Linked DNA regions of Homo sapiens. The protein of the gene in region 1 interacts with the protein of each later gene in a biochemical or structural test. Each region holds a gene or a part of one and is shown in the gene's direction. Other genes may lie near its edges.

Evidence for each region. Proteins that work in one complex are often made in the same cells at the same time.
Region 2: the proteins of PEX5 (region 1) and AGXT are reported together in a solved structure, tested with the Homo sapiens proteins (2 studies listed by BioGRID and IntAct, with this or other methods).

Annotation. Positions count from the first base shown.
Region 1 is NC_000012.12:7,206,621-7,213,030, forward strand, and holds the end of PEX5 (peroxisomal biogenesis factor 5), read left to right. Parts: intron 1-1,038; coding exon 1,039-1,182; intron 1,183-1,389; coding exon 1,390-1,460; intron 1,461-1,836; coding exon 1,837-2,049; intron 2,050-2,384; coding exon 2,385-2,550; intron 2,551-3,062; coding exon 3,063-3,220; intron 3,221-3,401; coding exon 3,402-3,603; 3' UTR 3,604-4,839; downstream 4,840-6,410.
Region 2 is NC_000002.12:240,871,652-240,878,823, forward strand, and holds part of AGXT (alanine--glyoxylate aminotransferase), read left to right. Parts: intron 1-1,327; coding exon 1,328-1,398; intron 1,399-2,326; coding exon 2,327-2,411; intron 2,412-3,457; coding exon 3,458-3,553; intron 3,554-4,283; coding exon 4,284-4,353; intron 4,354-5,885; coding exon 5,886-5,981; intron 5,982-6,370; coding exon 6,371-6,499; intron 6,500-7,062; coding exon 7,063-7,170; 3' UTR 7,171-7,172. UniProt on the Homo sapiens protein: Peroxisomal aminotransferase that catalyzes the transamination of glyoxylate to glycine and contributes to the glyoxylate detoxification.

The DNA of each region.
Region 1 (6,410 bases):
TAATTTTCATTTGTGACAAATAATTTGCATCTGATCATGACTTAGAATTTTGCTGGTAAGATTTAAGTGTTTTTGATTCTTTATCATTTTCACAATAATAATGAAAAAGGGCCTCATGTCTTTATTTTGTACAGTTTTATCTGAATTTATTCTTAACTGCATTTAGAAAGACCTCCACCTGTTGTTTTGCATCTTGTTTTCGTTCTGGTGTATTATTTTATGATGGTAACTACTCTCCAAAAACGGACTTTTTATTTGCATGTCCCAGATTTTGCAGCTTACTAGTGACTTCCCCTTTACCTCATTTCTTCTCTGCCTAGTGTAAAATGCCAGTTGACAAAGCTTTGCAGATAGTATCGTAACTCTTCTCTAAAGTGAGAAATCCTCAGCTGGAAGAGAATGGTGTCTTTCTGAAGTATTCTCTGCCATCTGGATTTTGGGATCCAGCTTTTGCTTACTGTCAGATACAGATTAATATTCATGATTATTAAGAATGAAATCGGGGAATAAATTAACATTTTCAAAATGCTTGAAAATGTTTTATCTAGTTGACATGTGGAATGACTCTGAGCTAAGTAAGAGTTATATTTGAATAGCAGGACTCCAAACAACATTTCCTTTATACATCATCACATTATTGAAGGATAACAAGAAATGCACTTTGCATAGCTAGGGACACTTTGTCTCATTACTATAAGCAGATCCTGTTGAGACATTCTGCCCCGTGGTGAGAAGTCAAGGTGTGGGAATACAAGCCTGTGATGACTTCCTAAAATAAGCTTATTTCCAGCGCAGATGAATTTGTAGACTTTCCTAGCTTCCCAGGTATCATGAACAGGAGATGGGAGCACAAACCTGATACCAAATGATTTTACTTGTGTCATACATGATCTTTATAATATGGAGAATTTGCCAGCAATTAATTCCGGAACCTGTTTGGAGGCCCTCAGCTTCTCTGCCTGCTGGTTGTCATCCTCACATCCCTGCTGTTCTGACGGTGCCACCTCTCAGTCCATCTCTCACGTGCTTTTCTTGTAGGGGTACCAGTTTGAGGAGGAGAACCCCTTGCGTGATCACCCTCAGCCTTTTGAAGAAGGGCTGCGGCGCCTTCAGGAGGGGGACCTGCCAAATGCTGTGCTGCTTTTTGAGGCAGCTGTGCAGCAGGATCCTAAGCACATGGAAGTGAGTGACTCCATAGTCTCATTTCTGGCTAGAGACTGCTTCCTCCATCTTGAGAAAGGCCCCAAGGAGAGTAGTGCAGATGGGTTAGGGCCTGGGTGATGGCCTAGGATAGGGGCTTGAGAGCGAGATGGTGAGTGGGAGAAGCCAGGGGGAAGGGCGAATGGAGAGGTGAATATGGGGTGATGGAATCTGTCAACTTCCCTCTAGGCTTGGCAGTATCTGGGTACCACCCAGGCAGAGAATGAACAAGAACTATTAGCCATCAGTGCATTGCGGAGGTGAGTACACTGAAAGGTGTGGGTGAGGTGCTTCCAAGGCTCTGCATATAACCTTTTGAATGACAGAAGCCCAGACCTGGATCCTTGTCTTCTTTCTGAGTGCTATCAAGAGTGTTTTCTCATGCTGAAACTCTGAGGGTTGGAGTGAATTCCATTCCTTCATCGGCTTTTGATTTTATTTGCGGCTTTGGTTGGCTCCTTGCCTGCTAAAACCTTCCCCTTAGATCTGTAACTTTATTATTAACTCATGTCAGAGGAGTCACAGGTGAGGCCATTGTGACTCTGCATTTCAAAGCTTGGCTTGGATCCCAGGGTGCTCACATGTGCCAGTGTCAGTCATTGCAGATATCAAGTCTGCCCATCCCTGATCAAACAGGTGTCTGGAGCTAAAGCCAGATAACCAGACAGCACTGATGGCGCTGGCTGTGAGCTTCACCAACGAGTCCCTGCAGCGACAGGCCTGTGAAACCCTACGAGACTGGCTGCGGTACACACCAGCCTATGCCCATCTGGTGACACCTGCTGAAGAAGGGGCTGGTGGGGCAGGACTGGGCCCCAGCAAGCGTATCCTGGGATCTCTCTTGTCTGAGTGAGTATGAGGGGTTCCTAGGATGAGGAATTACAGTAACCTAAGTCCCAGTAGGAGGGTGACCTTGGTTTTGGAAGTTTGGATGGATTGAGACTGAAGGGTCCTGAGAATGGGATGGGAAACCTAGGATCAAGTTGAAGGAGGTCTGCATTCTACAGTTCAGTGCTAGGATGAAATAGAAAAACAGGCTTCTATATTGGACTTTGAGAGTAGAAGAGATGACTGATAGATTGATGAATGTTGGGGATATGGTTGATCAATGAAGAAATTAATTTGGGGGGATGGGAATAGAGACATTCATCTACCTACTTTGTGTTTTTTTCCTTTTCATCCAGCTCCCTGTTTCTTGAAGTGAAAGAGCTCTTCCTGGCAGCTGTGCGGCTGGACCCTACCTCCATTGACCCTGATGTGCAGTGTGGCTTGGGAGTCCTTTTCAACCTGAGTGGGGAGTATGACAAGGCCGTGGACTGCTTCACAGCTGCCCTCAGCGTTCGTCCCAATGTGAGCCCAGGGGAGGAATGGAAATGGGACATGACTGTGTACCTTATTGAAGAGCCATTTGTTGGGAAGCTGGGTTTGATGGTGCATGCCTGTAGTCCCAGCTACTTGGGAGGCTGAAGTGGGAGGATCACTTGAGCCTGGGAGTTCAAATCCAGCCTGGGCAACATAGCAAGACCCTGCCCACCCCCACAAAAAAGAATAATTTGTTCAGACTTTTGGAGTCTTGGGGTATTTCATTCCAGTGTTCCATGTACTGACTGCCTTGGGAGGACTGGGAAAAGAAGGCTGGGAGTGTAGGGTCATCTGGACATAAGAGAGTCTGCATAGGGTGAGAGGGGCTACATTGTAGCCACACACCGAACTGTTGAGAATGGAATGGGACGAAACATGTTAGCTAACAGAGTAGTGAAACAGCTGGAGTAATGTGCAGAGTTTGAGCTGAGTCGGTGGAGTAATGTGCAGAGTTTGAGCTGAGTCAAGCTGTTCCCATCCGTTCTGCATCCCTATCCCAGGACTATTTGCTGTGGAATAAGCTAGGCGCCACCCTGGCCAATGGAAACCAGAGTGAAGAAGCAGTAGCTGCGTACCGCCGGGCCCTCGAGCTCCAGCCTGGCTATATCCGGTCCCGCTATAACCTGGGCATCAGCTGCATCAACCTCGGGGCTCACCGGTGAGAGTATCTATTGAGAAATGAATGAATGAGCTTTTTCTCCCTGCCTTTGGCCCTAGCTCCTTATTCTTAGATCCTGTTTGACTAACCAGCCCTAGCTTTCTCCCTCCCACTGCTAGCTGACCTGCTTCCTTCCATTGTTGTTCAGCTTAACAGCTCTCATTCCTCTTCTTCCTTACAGGGAGGCTGTGGAGCACTTTCTGGAGGCCCTGAACATGCAGAGGAAAAGCCGGGGCCCCCGGGGTGAAGGAGGTGCCATGTCGGAGAACATCTGGAGCACCCTGCGTTTGGCATTGTCTATGTTAGGCCAGAGCGATGCCTATGGGGCAGCCGACGCGCGGGATCTGTCCACCCTCCTAACTATGTTTGGCCTGCCCCAGTGACAGTGGGACGGGCTGCCCTGTGAGTGTCCACCTGGAGGGATCCCCGCTTTGGATGTGATTCCCTCTCCCCAAATGGGCCTACCAAGGGGGCGGGCTGATGACCATAAGCGGTACGGCCTTTCAGGAGCTGCCTCAACGTAGGGGTGGGTAGTCTGTGTTCTAGTTCCTACATAATTGTAGGAAAATGAGCTGTGTCATCTCTGAGTCCCTTGGTAATTCAAGGGCTGTACATCCAGCTACAGATCTCTCTGCTCATCATGCCCTTTCTTGGTGCTGCTTTTTGGGTAGGACCCCACGATTTAGGGTAACTGTTATCATCAGCTGCCATTTCTGATAGGGTCTACCACATCTGTAATGTCTGTCCTTTCCCCCACTTTTACTGGGAATTGATAGTCCAGCTTCCTTGGGCAGTGTAAGTAGGAGGTTCATCTGCTGTGCGCCTCTAATGTCTGTCTGGATGGGATGTGTTAGGAGTTGGCCTGTTGGGTTGAATTGTTGATTTGGCTGAGCAGAGCTGAGTTTTGGTAGGAGTGCTCATGGTTCTGTCATTCTTGGACCTCTCCTGGCTGAGCTCTGATTCCCTGTGAGCACGATGCTGATGCAATAGTCCTGTGTCATCACTGCAGCGGTCCTCAGGAGCTGCCAGGGCCAATTGCTACAGAGTGTCTGGGTGTGTGGCATAGGAGGAAGGTTTGCTTGTGAAATGAGGCTGGGTGGGAGCGGGGAGGGACTAGATCAGAAGAGATCAAGGGCTCTATTCAGGAACGTTGGTGGGAGGACAGAGCAAGTGGGAAGGGGGTATGGTGAGTGCGGCAATCCCTCATCCTCTTAGAAGCACCTGTGAATGGGAATTGAGCCAACTGTTATAGAAAATTGGTTCAGAAAGTGCAATCTTGCCAGATTTCTAGCAAATAGGTTCAGTGTTACCATAAGCCTTTGCTGTACTTCTTGAAATGTTTCTAGGGGAGAGCATTGGAAAATCCCCTTCCCCCATCTAGATCGAAGGAAGATGAGGGAGCAGCTTGGATTCTTCTCAGTTGTCCCCTGCATGGGGAGATACACTAACCCCCAGAAATGACTGCTAAGCCTCTTGCCTTGTCTTTAGTAGCTAATGATCAGAGAGATTTTTTTTTTAAACTACCATGGTCCCAGGATTCCATCCTGAAATTTATTTTTCTTTGTATGAATATGTGTAAATGATTTAAAAATAAAACTGTAAAATATTTGTACGAAGAATAAATGGAACTGATGTGGGTATGAGTTCTGCTGGTCATGAAGCTGGGATGGCAGAAGGTGAGTTGGCGTTTGGAGGACTGGGATTCAACAGTTTCTGCCTTTCAAATTCTCACTGGTATATTGGTTACCTGCTCATCCCTCTAAAAATGATAGAGCACAGGAGACAGGGTCCCTGTTCTCTGGGCCTCTGGGCTAGCAGGAGAAAGAGATGTCGATAATCATGAATTTTTACTCCTGTTACTACTACAAAGGAAAGTGTGCAGTGCCATATAATTGTTAGGTTGTTTTGTATTATGAATTACATGGAAGGATTTTGATAGTTTTTCAGTGCTTAGGGTTTCTAAAGCTTTTCATCTGGCTCTGCCTGCCTTTATCGGGAACTGTATCAAGTGCCATATCAAGATGGGTATTTATCCTGAGGAAAAATTTAAAAATATACACAAATATTTATACTTGGAGATAGATGTTTGTGGGCACATTAGACTTGGAAAAAAAATTTTTTTTTTTTTGTTTTTTTTTTTTTAAGGCAGTGTTTCACTCTTTTTGCCCAGGCTGGAGTGCAATGGCGTGATCTCAGCTCACTGCAGCCTCCGCCTCCTGGGTTCAAGCGATTCTCCTGCCTCAGCTTCCTAAGTAGATGGGATTACAGGCATGTGCCACCACGCCCAGCTAATTTTGTATTTTTATTAGAGACAGGGTTTCATCATGTTGGTCAGGCTGGTCTCGAACGCCCGACCTCAGGCAATCCACCCACCTCGGCCTCCCAAAGTGCTGGGATTACAGACGTGAGCCACCGTGCCCAGCCAAAAAAAAGTCTAACTTTTAAATTTATTTAAAAAGTTTTTCAAATAGAGACTAGATCTCACTATGTTGACCAGGCTGGTCTTGAACTCCTGGCCTCAAGGAATCCTGCCTCAGCCTCCCAAAGTTCTGGGATCACAGGGAGGAGCACCATACCTGGCCAAAGTCTAATTTTTTTTTTCCGGTGAGCTCAAAAGCTGCCAGAAAAAAAAAAAAAAAAAAAAAAAACCCAAAAAACAAAAAAAACAGGTCTAAAAGACAACTGGGTAAGTAAATTGTCCAGACAGTGAAATATAGCTATTGCTATTTAATCATTTATGGAATAATTTCCAGTGACAATAGATGCTAACAATATAGTGAGAAAAATGGTTGGTCAATTATTTACAGATTGTCTTAAGAAAAAAATGCATTGAAAAGACAATAGGGAACTATCCCAATGTGCTAAAAGTGGGGAGATCATACTTCTCTGTAATTCTCAAATTTTCTTGGTGCATGTTTGATACTTTTCTAGAGGAGAAAATTAAACACCTGGGGGAGGAAAACAGGAAGCTGTTGTGGCACCTGTCACCACCTGGGGGATCACGAGGCAGCTGGTGTCTTGGGCTCTGCAGGTTGGTGGTGCAAAGACCCAGGCGGGAAGTGGGCTGGGCAGGTGGAGGAGCAGTTTCCACACTACATAGGTGCAGGACATGACAAAGTCTGGCTGTGTAAATGACTTAAGAATTAAGCTATAAAATACCTAGGAATCCAACTTACAAGGGATGTGAAGG
Region 2 (7,172 bases), on another chromosome or scaffold:
TGCTCCCTGGCCGAGCGCCCCCATAGTGCCCACTGACCTCTGTCCCCAGGGCTGAAGAGGGCTTGGTGCAGACTTCCATATCTTGCCAGGGCCTGTCCCCACCTCACCCCGAGATTGCCAGGACACTAAAGCTGCCTGATGCCCTCCACTTCCCTCCTCCAGCCTCCCTCATCCCCGCATGGGGGTGCACAGGGCAAGGCCTTGAATGGAGTCAGATGGGATTCCTGAGAAATGCGGACAGAGCCCCTTGGGACCCAGCAGTCCCGTCTGCAGGTCTGAGCACAGGACAGAGGAGAGAAACTCCACGGCCAGGGAGGGTCCTTCTGACAGGGCCCCCAGCCCAGACAGCTTGCTGCATGGACCGTGGCCATGAATAAAGCTCACAAACATAACCTGGCCAGCTTCAGCAACACCCAGGCCATCCCCACCTGCGGCCAGCACGAGATACTTTCTGTGTCTCTTTTTTCTTTATAAGAAAACCTGGAGGTGGAGGAGGGTGAGAGTTTGTGAACATGGAGGCGGAGGAGGGTGAGAGTTCGTGAACATGCAGGCGGAGGAGGGTGAGAGTTCGTGAACATGTAGGTGGAGGAGGATAAGAGTTCGTGAACATGCAGGAGGAGGGTGAGAGTTCGTGAACATGCAGGAGGAGGAGGGTGAGAGTTCGTGAACATGGAGGAGGAGGAGGGTGAGAGTTCGTGAACATGCAGGCGGAGGAGGGTGAGAGTTCGTGAACATGCAGGTGGAGGAGGGTGAGAGTTCGTGAACATGCAGGAGGAGGGTGAGAGTTCGTGAACATGCAGGAGGAGGAGGGCGAGAGTTCGTGAACATGGAGGCGGAGGAGGGTGAGAGTTTGTGGCGCTGCTGCTTGGGCTGTTCTGGGACTCTGTCCCCTCTGGCCTAGATTCTGGCCAGTGGCTGGGCCGAGCAGCTGTTGGCAGAGGTAGGCCCAGCCTGGTGCCACCCTGGTCCCTGGGGTCCACACAGGCCCTCAGGCACCCGCTGTCCCTGGGAACCACAGACTGCCCGGCTGACCCTCTTCAGCACCACTGCCGGGCCCTGCAGCTGGGTCTCACCAGGGCCGTGATGCTCCCTCACTCCCCCAGCTCCCTCTGCTCCAATGTTCAGGGCTGAGAAAGGAAGAGCCACAGGTCCTGATGGATCCTGACAGGCAGGAGAAGGCAACTGGCCAACTCCTGGGGTGGAGGTGGGAGGTGCCCTGCCTTCCTTGCCAGCCTGAGGCTCAGAAACCCCATCCAGCCTGGGGCCAGGCCCTCCAGTGGCCCCCTGCCTCACCTGCTGCCCTCCATTCTGTCCCCCACCTCTCCAGGTACAAGTGCCTGCTCCTGGTGGATTCGGTGGCATCCCTGGGCGGGACCCCCCTTTACATGGACCGGCAAGGTAAGGGTGGGCTCTGAGAGCCCTACCCAGCCCAAGCAGCCTTGGGGCTCCGCGTGCAGGAAGCCCTGCTGGAAGCGTGCGTCCAGCAGCCGATGCTGCGGATTCGGCCCCATCTCCACCAGGCCCAGGGAAACACTCACTCCTTACTGCGGCAAGAGCGGCTCCATGAACTACCCAGCACCCCAGTGTTTCCACTGAGCTTTCAGATCCAGGCGTGGGGACTGGCAGGAGGGACAGCTTCTGGTGGGGGACATTTGAGATGCCCCAGAGCTGTAGCAGAAGCAGTGGGAAGAGGAAGGGCCAGGGCTCCAGTCAATCAGGCGTTGGGCACCCCTCTGCCCAACCCCCCAGAGGCTCAGTTTCACATCTGCCCTGCGCCCTGCCAGGCTGCCCATAGCAGTGAGCACCACTGTCAGGGTCACCTCGCAGGGAACCTCAACCAGGCCGGCCGAGGGGCCAAGGAGCCTCCTGTGCCCATCCGCTTACGGGAGAGAGCCTGCACATTGCATCCACTGCGGTGCCTGCCCACCCACTCCATGGGAGCCTGTCTGTTTCTGCAGAGCCCCTCCTGATTTGGGAGTTCTCAGGCAGGAAGGGAGGGATTTCTGGGCTGATCCTCAAACTACTACTGAAAGCAGGGACCTGGGGAGGGCCCCAGGGACACGGTGCCTGGGGTGGCAGGGCTGTCCCTGGGGACCAGCACAGCAGAGGGAGAAGCTGCGCTAAAACGCTCAGGCCTGAGGTCATGGCTGCCACGCAGCAGTGCCCAGATTTGAACCCAGGACTCCCTTCCACATCTCCCCTGCTATCGTGTACGGATTCGTGGTAGGGTCGTAGCCTACCAGCCCATTAGCTAGGCAGGCATCCCGCTGGACTGGCCTGCCCTGAGGTGGGACTCACCCGTCCCGAGCAAACCACCCATCTACAGGCATCGACATCCTGTACTCGGGCTCCCAGAAGGCCCTGAACGCCCCTCCAGGGACCTCGCTCATCTCCTTCAGTGACAAGGCCAAGTGAGTGACCCACAGACCCTCACCTCTGTGCAGGGCTGGGCTTGCAGGGAGCTCAGGTGGCCCGAGGCGGGAGGGGCGGGAGCCAGGCAGGAAGGGCTCCCCATGCTCCTCCAGCACCTGGCGCTCTCCCGCCCACCCTCTGGGAGGCCAAAGGCACTGCGTTCACAGGGAGTGGGGAGGCCGGGCGAGGGGAGGGCTGCAGGCGTGTGCAGGGTGCAGAGTCCACTGCTCTGGAAGTTCCCAGCTTCACAGCAAGGAGTGACCAGGAAAGGACTGAGGGCCTGAGGCCCAGTGCCCTGACCGGCCTCTGCCCTGGCTCAGCTTCCAGGGGCTGCCCCAAGGGACAACGTGGGCCACACACAGTGCCCCCTGCAGTCCCAATCTCACCTCCCGCTCCTGGTGTCCAGATTCTGAGCCAGGCCGGGCAGGGGGTAGGGGAAGGGGGCCAGACCTCACAGGCGGTTCCCATCCAGCTGCAGCCTGGCAACTGGAGGTGCCGTTCCCCAGAACAGAGAGGACTTCGGGGAGAAGTCAGGAATTCGGTGTTGGACGTGGGAGGTCTGAGATGCCAGCTGGACCACACGGGAGGGTGAAGGAAGCGGCTGGGTGTGAGTCAGGAGCCTGGGGAGAGGCCGGGGCTGGCCCCTCCATCTGGAGTTGTAGAGACGGACACATTTAAAGTTTCAAGCCTGGCCAGTGTCCCCTGGGGCCCGAAAGCAGTCACCTTTGGGTGATGTGAGAAATGAAGGCTGACCCTGTAGGAGGGGCTGGGGGAGAGAAAGGGGCACACAGAGTGGAGGGAGCTGGCCTTGGTGCCCCCATGGCAGGGTCACACAGCTGGGCCCAAGGGCCAGCGGGACTGGACAGCTGAGGGACCCACGACCCACCCGGTCCCACTCTGGCCCCTGAGCACAAATGCAGCTGGGGCGGGCCCTCCTGGGGGCCCCACCCCGTCTCACTCCCGTGAAACAGGACAGCCAGCGAGACTGCCCTGGCCTTCAGCCCAAACTGAGAGGCTGGTGCTCAGCCTGCTTCTTTCTCCCCAGAAAGAAGATGTACTCCCGCAAGACGAAGCCCTTCTCCTTCTACCTGGACATCAAGTGGCTGGCCAACTTCTGGGGCTGTGACGACCAGCCCAGGATGTGAGGCCTGGCAGGGATGGGAAGGTGGAGGGCGCTGGGCATGGCTGAGAGGTGGGGCGCTGGCCTCTCACTGCACTCAGGGATTCTCCAAGCCCCCCACCTTCATGCCTCAAGAACCCCAACTAGAGCCCCAGAATCCGCCTGCATCAGGCAGTCAAATGCCCCACCCTGGGTTCCCCCATTCCTCGACTGGCCCGAGGCTCTGGGCAGGGTCATGGCCCCCACTGCCGCTTCCACAAACACTGTCCCCCCAGAGGTCCCAGCACACCCTCGGGCACTTTGGACCTGGCCCTGCCACATCTCCCCACTCCTGGGCCTCAGCTTACCCCTTCTGAAAAGACGACCTTGGCCATAAACCCAAGGCCCCTTATGTTACACACAGGAACAAGGCGCCAGGAATGGTGCCCTAGCCCAGTGGGCACAGAGGGCCAGTGCCGGCTTCGCAGGCACGCTGGGACTGAGGGGCTCCGCAGGGAGGTGGTGGCACGTGTCTCTGCTCCTGCAGCCACCCACTGCCTCCTGGCTGGGCCCTACACAAGCCATGCTCTCCCTGGCAGACGAAGCTGCCTTCCCGGTCCAAAGTTCTGAACCCGGACAGGACTCCTCTGCGGAGGATACCGGCCTGTGGTCAGAGAGCCTGTGCTGTTGGGGCTGGGGCAGACAGAGCTAATGCCCCATCTGCCCCCAACCCTGCCCATGGTGCTGGACCAAGCCCCCTCGTGTCTTCCAGGTACCATCACACAATCCCCGTCATCAGCCTGTACAGCCTGAGAGAGAGCCTGGCCCTCATTGCGGAACAGGTGCATGGGCTGCACTCCACAGGAGGAGACAGGGCCACTGGCTGGATTGTCGAGGGCGCGGCCTGCAGAGAAGGAACCATCCCTGGTGCACAGAGAAAAGGGAGCCTGCCAGAGAGAGGCCCTCAGTGGGGGTGGGGGAGAGAGGACAGGGCCCCGGGTACACTGGCTGCGGGCAGGGCCAGGGGGATACAGCCCCAGGGACAGATGCAGCAATGGGGCAGGTGTGGATGCTCCCAACCCTTCCATTGCTGTGTGAAGCAGTAAGTGAGGCCCAGTGAGTGGGTGGGCTGGGAGAAGGGGAGGCCGAAGGGGCCAGAGATGTGCCCACAGATAGGTGGGCGTGGATGTAAAGTGAGGGTTGGCAGTTCCTGCAGGCTTGTCCAGCTCCTATGGCAGGGCAAGAGCTGAGCATGAGCACTTGGGTGTGACCAGGGGTTGATTTGGCCACTGCAACATCCACACTCTCAGGACACTGCAACATCCACACTCTCAGGACACAGGCGGCTGAGAGTGGCCTCAGGCCCAGCAGCTCTGCAGGCCACGAGACAGGAAGTCCCACCTACTTTCATCTGGGTCCTGTGTCCCACAGGGCCCATTGCCAGCCACCAGTCCAGAGTCCAGGAAGGATCCCCGGGCTGCAGCCAGCTTCCCATGAGGTTGCAAGGCCGTGCCTGCCACGTTTGTCCTCCTGGGTCCACTCATAAAGCCACTGCCTAGGGCTGGGTTAGTGCCAGGGTGCCCCTGTAAGCTAAATGCCACCCGCACCCGCGGGGGAAGGCGAGGGGTCAGGCGCTCACACAGGGAAAGGCTCTAGGGTCGTAAAGGTGGGTGGGGGGTGTGAGCTGGGCAGAGAAGGAAGAGAACAGGACCAGACAGCAGGGCACAGTCAAGGGCAGAGGCACAGGGACCTGGCAGAGTGCAGATTGCAGGGGCACATGCGCAGAGAAGACGGGCCAGGGCCAGAGTAGAGAGCAGCTGCTGCTCCGGGGACCCACCTGGGGTGGCCATGAGAGCTGGTGGCTGGAGGCCGGGAGGACCCGTGACCAGAGGTAATGGCACTGAGGGGCCCAGGGCTGGAGAGACCACCCCTCACCTGTCCAGAGCTGAGGCAGGAGCAGTGCTGCGGAGGATGCCAGGTCGGGGGAGCTGGCCCTGAGAGGAGAGGGGGCCTGGGAGCCAGCACCCTGAGCCCTGGCCCTGATCCACTCCAGCCCTGTGTAGCCCAACAGCCCTTCCCCTCCTTGCCCAGTCCCCTCCCCCTGCAAGGCACTCTCCACTCTTCTCCCCCAGGGGCCACAGGCAGACCTCCCCTCTGTCTCTCTGAACCCTCCTCTGTCTCTCCCAGACCCAGATGTTTCCTTCTGCCCTGGGGTAGTCCCAGGCCCTGCCCCAGGCAAAGTCAAACTGGGGGCTCCAGGGGCTCCCCTGCACCAAGGCCTGCAGAGTCAGGTTCTTCCTCCCGCACCACAGAGGGCGGGGCTTCCTGCCCACCCCACCCATGTCACTGCCCACCAGCGCCATCTCCCACACAGGGCCTGGAGAACAGCTGGCGCCAGCACCGCGAGGCCGCGGCGTATCTGCATGGGCGCCTGCAGGCACTGGGGCTGCAGCTCTTCGTGAAGGACCCGGTAAGGAGGCCCCTGGCATTGGGCAGCCCTGCACCCATGGGGAAGGATGAGGGGCTCTTGCCCAGCCCCCTCAAGAGGGACACTGGCTCCTGAGAAGGAGGGGGCGGCTGCCCGGTGGTGTGGCCTCGGTGCCAGGGATTAGTCTCGGCAGGAGCCACGAAGTCACAGCTCCCGGCCTCTGATGCGGGATCTCAGGACGGCCTGTGATCTCCCAGTGGGAAGGTGCCCATCCACCGCCTCCTAAGGGGTGGGGTCCCTGCTCTCTCCCGGCCCTTTCTCCCCCGGCTCCTCTGGAACCTGAAGCTGGGGCAGATGGTGCAGGCCAAGAGCTGTCACAAAGGCCCGTACAGGGCCTCTCACCCACGCACTGAGCCAGGCCCCTCCTGCAGGCGCTCCGGCTTCCCACAGTCACCACTGTGGCTGTACCCGCTGGCTATGACTGGAGAGACATCGTCAGCTACGTCATAGACCACTTCGACATTGAGATCATGGGTGGCCTTGGGCCCTCCACGGGGAAGGTGAGAGGGAGCGCCTCGAGGGCCTTTTGCAGAAACCAAACCCGCCACCCCTCCTTGAGCAGGACTGTGCACCAGGTGCAGGGGAGGCCGGGGTCATCCGAAAGCCCAGATTGCAGGAGCGTCCAGAAGGGCCCACTCTCCAAGGGGTATCCAGTAAAGCGTATCCTGTCGCCCCTGCTCCCACCCCAGCCCACTGAGGTCACCAGGTGCAGCCTTTATGATTCCACTCGGAACATCCTTCCTTCCCTCTGACCAGACCCTGGAACCAGGCCGGAAGCCCCACGCCTGGGCCTGGCTGTGTCTCTGAGTGGCAGTGGGGAGGGACCTTCACTGCACCACCCTGTCCTCCCGTGTGGCTGCGGGTGCAGAGGGAGGAGAGCCTGCCCTGGCCTGGGTGCTCAAGGGCCCCCTCTGTGACCTGCACAGGGCTGTCAACTCCCCTCATGGACGCTGGGTGGGTGGTCCTCACTCAGGTGAGCCCATCCTGGCTCTGGCCAGCTGTCGGTCAGGGTCAGGCAGGTCCCAGGCGGGAGGCTGACGTCAGCCCGCCCTGTGCCCCCCAGGTGCTGCGGATCGGCCTGCTGGGCTGCAATGCCACCCGCGAGAATGTGGACCGCGTGACGGAGGCCCTGAGGGCGGCCCTGCAGCACTGCCCCAAGAAGAAGCTGTGACC